Linked DNA regions of Homo sapiens: region 2 is linked to region 1. The links come from fine-mapping of genetic effects on gene expression. A gene starts in region 1. The other region holds a variant in brackets. All regions are shown on one strand. Distances are between the middles of the regions.

Region 1 (2,906 bases):
AAGGCGCCCGCGCGCACCTCGTCCAGGCGGCTGCCGCTGAGGTTGAGCGCGGCCAGCTCCGCCAGCGGCGGCCGGCGGGCGAAGGCGCCGGCAGGGAGCACGGCCAGCTGGTTGCCGGTAAGGAAGAGGTTGCGCACGTAGGCGGGCAGGTCCGTGGGCACCTCGGTCAGATTGCGGTTAACGCACTTGACTGTGCGCGCTGCCTCGGAGCACTCGCACAGCGCGGGGCACTGGTCCGGCAGCGGGGGCTGGGCGGACACGGCGGAAGCCAGGAACGGCGCCGAGGAGGAGAAGGAGGATGCCGAGGAGGTGGGAGAAGACGAGGAGACCCAGCCCAGGAGTACCAGCGCTAGTCGCGCCAGCCGCAGACGCCCGTCCCCGGCGGCGGGGCCCCGGGAGCACCCCCCAGGCATCGCGGCTCGCGTTTCCCCGGAGCTGGGCTGGGACGGCGCCCGCTCCGAAGGCTCGGGAGGCTGGGCCCGGAGGGCGCGAGCCGGCGGAAGCGTCTGGAAAAAAAAAACTTTCCTCTCGTGGAACCGAGGGAGTGGCGCCGCAGCCGGAACTTGGCTAACCCCCTCGCCACCGGGCGCTTCCCTCAGGGGCCGATTCCCCCGCCCCTTCCCTCCAGAAAGTACGCACGGCGGGTCGGGACGCTCCGCTCCGCGCTCCTGCTCCCGCTCCTCTTCCTGCCGCCGCCCTGGTGCCACCTCTTCGCCTCTTGTTGGCGCCCCTCGCTGGATCCTCTGAGGGACCTGGGACAAGCAGGAGAGAGGCGTGAACAGCGGTGGCTGCCGCGGCTTCCGGAGTGCAAAAACCGGCCTTTTCGAGTCTAGTCGTCTCCAGTCTGTCCCAGAGACCTCCTTCCAAAAGCCCGCCCCGGCCTCGCCTCCCCAACCCCTCCGGTCACTTTTACTCCGGAGGGGGACGCGCATCCGACACCCAGACCGCAAAGTCTTCCTTCTTCCCTGGCCCACACTAAATAAACCCGACCGGCCTCCCGCCCTCCGCCTTTCCCGAGGAGACTCGTCTCCCGCGTCTAACTTACCGCTTAATCCCCAATTCCTTCCCTACCAAACTTCTCCCTCTCCCGTTCCTTCCTGCACCGCCTCGGCGGAAGGTCGGCCTCCGGGTGTCTCCGCCCCCGCCCAGACCTCTCCACCAGGTCCCGGTTAGGATGCGAGGGAAGTTTCAGGTTACAGGACTTTTTGATCTCTTTTTGTACCTTCTCGCATTAGCAGGAAGTGGAGCTACAACTGTCGCCCCCCAGCCCGCGCCCCGCCAGCCCCTCGGATCTCAAAGGGGTTCAAGTCATCTCCAAAGAGGAGGGGAGAGTCTGGGAACAAAGCAGCAGTGGGACTCGGGGTACAGTGGCAACCCGAACCAACCCTACTCTCCACCCGAGGATGGGGAGGGGCCCCAACGACGCCTCCCGGGTCTCTCCCAGGCCGCGGGCTCCCACTGCTCACCTCCGCGTCCGCCGCCTCCAGAACCAACTCTGAGTTCCACCAGAGTAGCGACGACTTCCCGGCTCCGCGTTGCGGGCGCCGACTCTCTTCGCACCCCAGCCCCTGGCCCAACCTCCCAACCTCCGCAGCTGGGAAAAACCAACCCGGGGGGCGGGGGAGGGCCAGGACTGTCGGGGAGATTCCCGACGCGCGGCCAACCTCGGCAGCCGTAGGTAGGGGGATTTAAGAAGAGAGACTAGGGGAGCTGGGCTGCGCGCCTCCTCCTGGTGGAAATTAACGAGGAATGTGCCGGAAAAGGTGAGGGAATCCCTTTCTCTCCCCCCTCCCCGACATCCTTGGGTGGTTCCTCATTTTGCATACTGTATTTACCTTGGACTGGAGCAAAACCGCTGGTGAATCTCGTGGAATTCACCCTGATTCAGGCACCTTTGGCAGTGACGAGATAGATTTAGGCATGACAGAGCAGCGCGAAGCAGCAGCAGAAAGAAATGAGCTGAAAATCTACTGCGGCAGCAGCAAAGGCACGGCAGGTTGTATGGAAGCTTCAGAAGCTCTCCCCATCAAAGTGGTACTTGAGGCCGCAAACTTCAGATTTAGGTGTAATTAATGCCTTCCCGCCTGTCCCCCCCGCCCCCTCACTTCTTGGGTAGTGATGGAACTTGTGAAGAGAGCGCGCCAACTTTAAGAGAGAGAGAGAGAGAAAGAAAAAAAAAAGATTAGTGGAGAGGAGATTCATTCCTGATTCATTAGCTTTTCTCTTACCAAAATTAAAAGCAGATGGAAGAGAAAGGCAGCCAAAGGCATCCCAGAAACAAAAGGCAAATAGCAAAGACTTGAGTCTCCCGGAAAGCGGACCCGCCCCCCTCCCCAGATGTAGCGCGGTGTGTCAAGTCACTTCTGTGGAGAAAGCTCCAAGGATGAGGAGTGGGGATTGCAGGAGCTGACCTGGGAGAGAAGTTTGGTTTCAAAGTCGATTGTCCCAGGGGGCATCTGGCAGATGGTGATGGAGAGGATGGGGTTGGGGAGAGGGACAAATTGAATGGTTGGTTACCGGAAGGATCTGTTATTATACCAGACAGGTTTTGGGTTCTGAAAGCCCTATCGTTGCTCTCTGTAACTCCACATCCCCTTTGTCCCAATTAAATAATTTCCCCGAAGGGATAAGAAGGTTCTTCCAGGCTTCTTCATTTTAGAGAGAAAATGGCAATTAGGGAAAACATGGTTCGGAAATTTAAGACCTGGTCGTATTAAAAAAGATCAAATAAGGATCCTGAGGCTTGTGCCTGGGACATGTGCCTTTAGTGTGAAGAAAGACCCCAACTCTCCAACGGACGCCTGATTACTTTTATAGAAAGAGATAGTCTGCAAAGCCGACAGCAAAAATGGCTCAGACAAAAGCTGAAAACACTGGAAACTGCAGAGATTTGTGCACAAAAGCTG
Region 2 (2,906 bases), 32 kb before region 1:
GAGGTGACTCACAAAGTCTAGCAATCCATCTTGGAAGTCTTAGCAGGCCTATTTTTGGGCTGTTCTCCACACATGGCAAGGCTGAAGAATCCCAGGTGTTCTTGCTGAGAGCACAGTGAGAGCATGAGGATTGCCCTGAGAAGCAAGAAAATGCTCATTAAAGCAGGTTTCTGGTGGGAGATGACTCTGACTGGCAGGCCTGCATTCCTCCCTGTGGTGACCCCTTTCCTTGTTAGAGAGGGGGTCTGATGTCCAAATGTATCTGGGTTTAATGAGTAGCTGTTCACTGGGGACCCAGAGATGGCAAAGTGCTTGCTTGGTGAACCAAGAACAGCATATCGTTTATTTTGTGGATACGACACTGTTTAAATAATGTAAAAGTTTTTCTTTTGTGAGACGCTTTCCATGCCTTAGTAATTCTGAATGGCATATGTGGATATAGGAAACCTGAGGCTATGGTATAAATGGACTAACCAGGTTGGCTGAATTAATGATTCTGACAAAATCCCTAAATTCTTAAAAATAATTTGATAAGATCAACAGACATTTATGTCCCTACTGTAAATGAAGATGGAATAAAATTAGGAATTCTTCCCATAGGTCTGCAGATGTAGAATGGTTAATCAGGTGAAAAGATATTTAAATAACAGACCAGGGAATTAGGCCACCATATTGATTTTTTTAAATTGTTTTAATCTGTCAGATACTTACTAACTGCAAGCATATTTTGTCTTGCAGGGCATATTTCAACAAAATGGCAAATAATATGTATTTTGGTGAAACCAAAATTGAGTAATTGTATATAACAAAATTGTGAATAGCAAAGTAGCAATTTATATATGGCTAAGAATAGAATTTTATACAAAATATAGAGTGCAATGTCTGTGTGAGAAAATGCATGACAACAACGACAGTGTTAAAGTCCTCGAGAAACACCACATGTGTATCATAAGCTAAGCTAAGCATTTACTTGGAATTAAGTGCCAAGAAAAAATATTATTTCCCTGTGGCATGATATTTTGAAAGACCTCTCCATCACTTAAAAGTAAGGTGTTTTTTTTTTTCTGTCAGTATTCTAGAAATAAATTTGAAAGCACTTAAGGTATATGGAAAATTTTCTACTATTATTAGTATAAAAAACAACTGCGAAGGAAAACTCAGTGCTTTCCAAATCAACGTGTTTAATGCCCTGTTTATAGAATCAACTGTATCAACCACTTCATGATATAATTTTTCTCCCATTCAAATGAAGTTCTAGATCTGTGGAATCTTAACTTAAATACTTAACTCCTATTAGGCTATGTCTTGTGCAACTCTGGCCAATTTCATTAATTTTTCATTG[C/T]TTTGGTTTCCCAACTGAAAAATAAGGATCATAATGTAGTTCCACCTCTTCATCACATTCTATAGGGTTGGGCTAAACTGAGCACAAATAAAATATTTTTATGTAATAAAGGTATTACATAAAAATATTAATACTCTTGTAAATTTTTAATTATTACAATTTTAAAAACAACATAATTTTCCAAATAGATGAGGTGTAAGTATATAATTTAAGTCATCATTGAGCTTATCAGGTGGGCAGGGGACGAAACTGATACACAGATATTTACTGACCACATTCTAATGCCAAGCACTTTATATGCACTATTTCACTCAACTGTCATTACAGTCTGAGGTAAATACTACTATAAGATCTACTTTATAAATGGGAAAATTGCGGGGGAGGAGCCAAGATGGCCGAATAGGAACAGCTCCGGTCTACAGCTCCCAGCGTGAGCGACGCAGAAGATGGGTGATTTCTGCATTTCCATCTGAGGTACCAGGTTCATCTCACTAGGGAGTGCCAGACAGTGGGCGCAGGTCAGTGGGTGCGCGCACCGTGCGCGAGCCGAAGCAGGGTGAGGCATTGCCTCACTTGGGAAGTGCAAGGCATCAGGGAGTTCCCTTTCCGAGTCAAAGAAAGGGGTGACGGACGCACCTGGAAAATCGGGTCACTCCCACCCGAATATTGCGCTTTTCCGACCGGCTTAAAAAACGGCGCACCACGAGATTATATCCCACACCTGGCTCGGAGTCTCGCTGATTGCTAGCACAGCAGTCTGAGATCAAACTGCAAGGTGGCAGCAAGGCTGGGGGAGGGGCGCCCGCCATTGCCCAGGCTTGCTTAGGTAAACATAGCAGCCGGGAAGCTCGAACTGGGTGGAGCCCACCACAGCTCAAGGAGGCCTGCCTGCCTCTGTAGGCTCCACCTCTGGGGGCAGGGCACAGACAACAAAAAGACAGCAGTAACCTCTGCAGACTTAAATGTCCCTGTCTGACAGCTTTGAAGAGAGCAGTGGTTCTCCCAGCATGCAGCTCGAGATCTGAGAATGGGCAGACTGCCTCCTCAAGTGGGTCCCTGACCCCTGATCCCCGAGCAGCCTAACTGGGAGGCACCCCCCAGCAGGGGCACAATGACACCTCACACGGCAGGGTATTCCAACAGACCTGCAGCTGAGGGTCCTGTCTGTTAGAAGGAAAACTAACAAACAGAAAGGACATCCACACCAAAAACCCATCTGTACATCACCATCATCAAAGACCAAAAGTAGATAAAACCACAAAGATGGGGAAAAAACAGAACAGAAAAACTGGAAACTCTAAAACGCAGAGCGCCTCTCCTCCTCCAAAGGAACGCAGTTCCTCACCAGCAACGGAAAAAAGCTGGATGGAGAATGACTTTGACGAGCTGAGAGAAGAAGGCTTCAGACGATCAAATTACTCTGAGCTACGGGAGGACATTCAAACCAAAGGCAAAGAAGTTGAAAACTTTGAAAAAAATTTAGAAGAATGTATAACTAGAATAACCAATACAGAGAAGTGCTTAAAGGAGCTGATGGAGCTGAAAACCAAGGCTCGAGAACTAC

The links. PIP is the estimated chance that this variant, and not a neighbour inherited with it, causes the effect.
Region 2: its variant is fine-mapped to the expression of TPBG in whole blood (INTERVAL, PIP 0.98).

Annotation. Positions count from the first base shown.
Region 1 is chr6:82,362,469-82,365,374 of GRCh38, reverse strand. It overlaps TPBG (trophoblast glycoprotein), which reads right to left and starts at 1,558. Exons shown (of 2, transcript NM_001376922.1): 1 at 1,467-1,558; 2 at 1-752. The coding sequence starts at 413. LOC105377875 (a long non-coding RNA gene) reads left to right here and starts at 1,718. Exons shown (of 3, transcript XR_942738.4): 1 at 1,718-1,763. RefSeq lists enhancers at 1-45, 46-948, 1,100-1,611, 1,612-2,125 and a silencer at 1-77.
Region 2 is chr6:82,394,238-82,397,143 of GRCh38, reverse strand. No RefSeq gene overlaps it. Among named protein-coding and RNA genes, the nearest start is that of TPBG, 32 kb to the right of the region's middle. The variant C/T (reference allele first, on the strand shown) is at 1,343.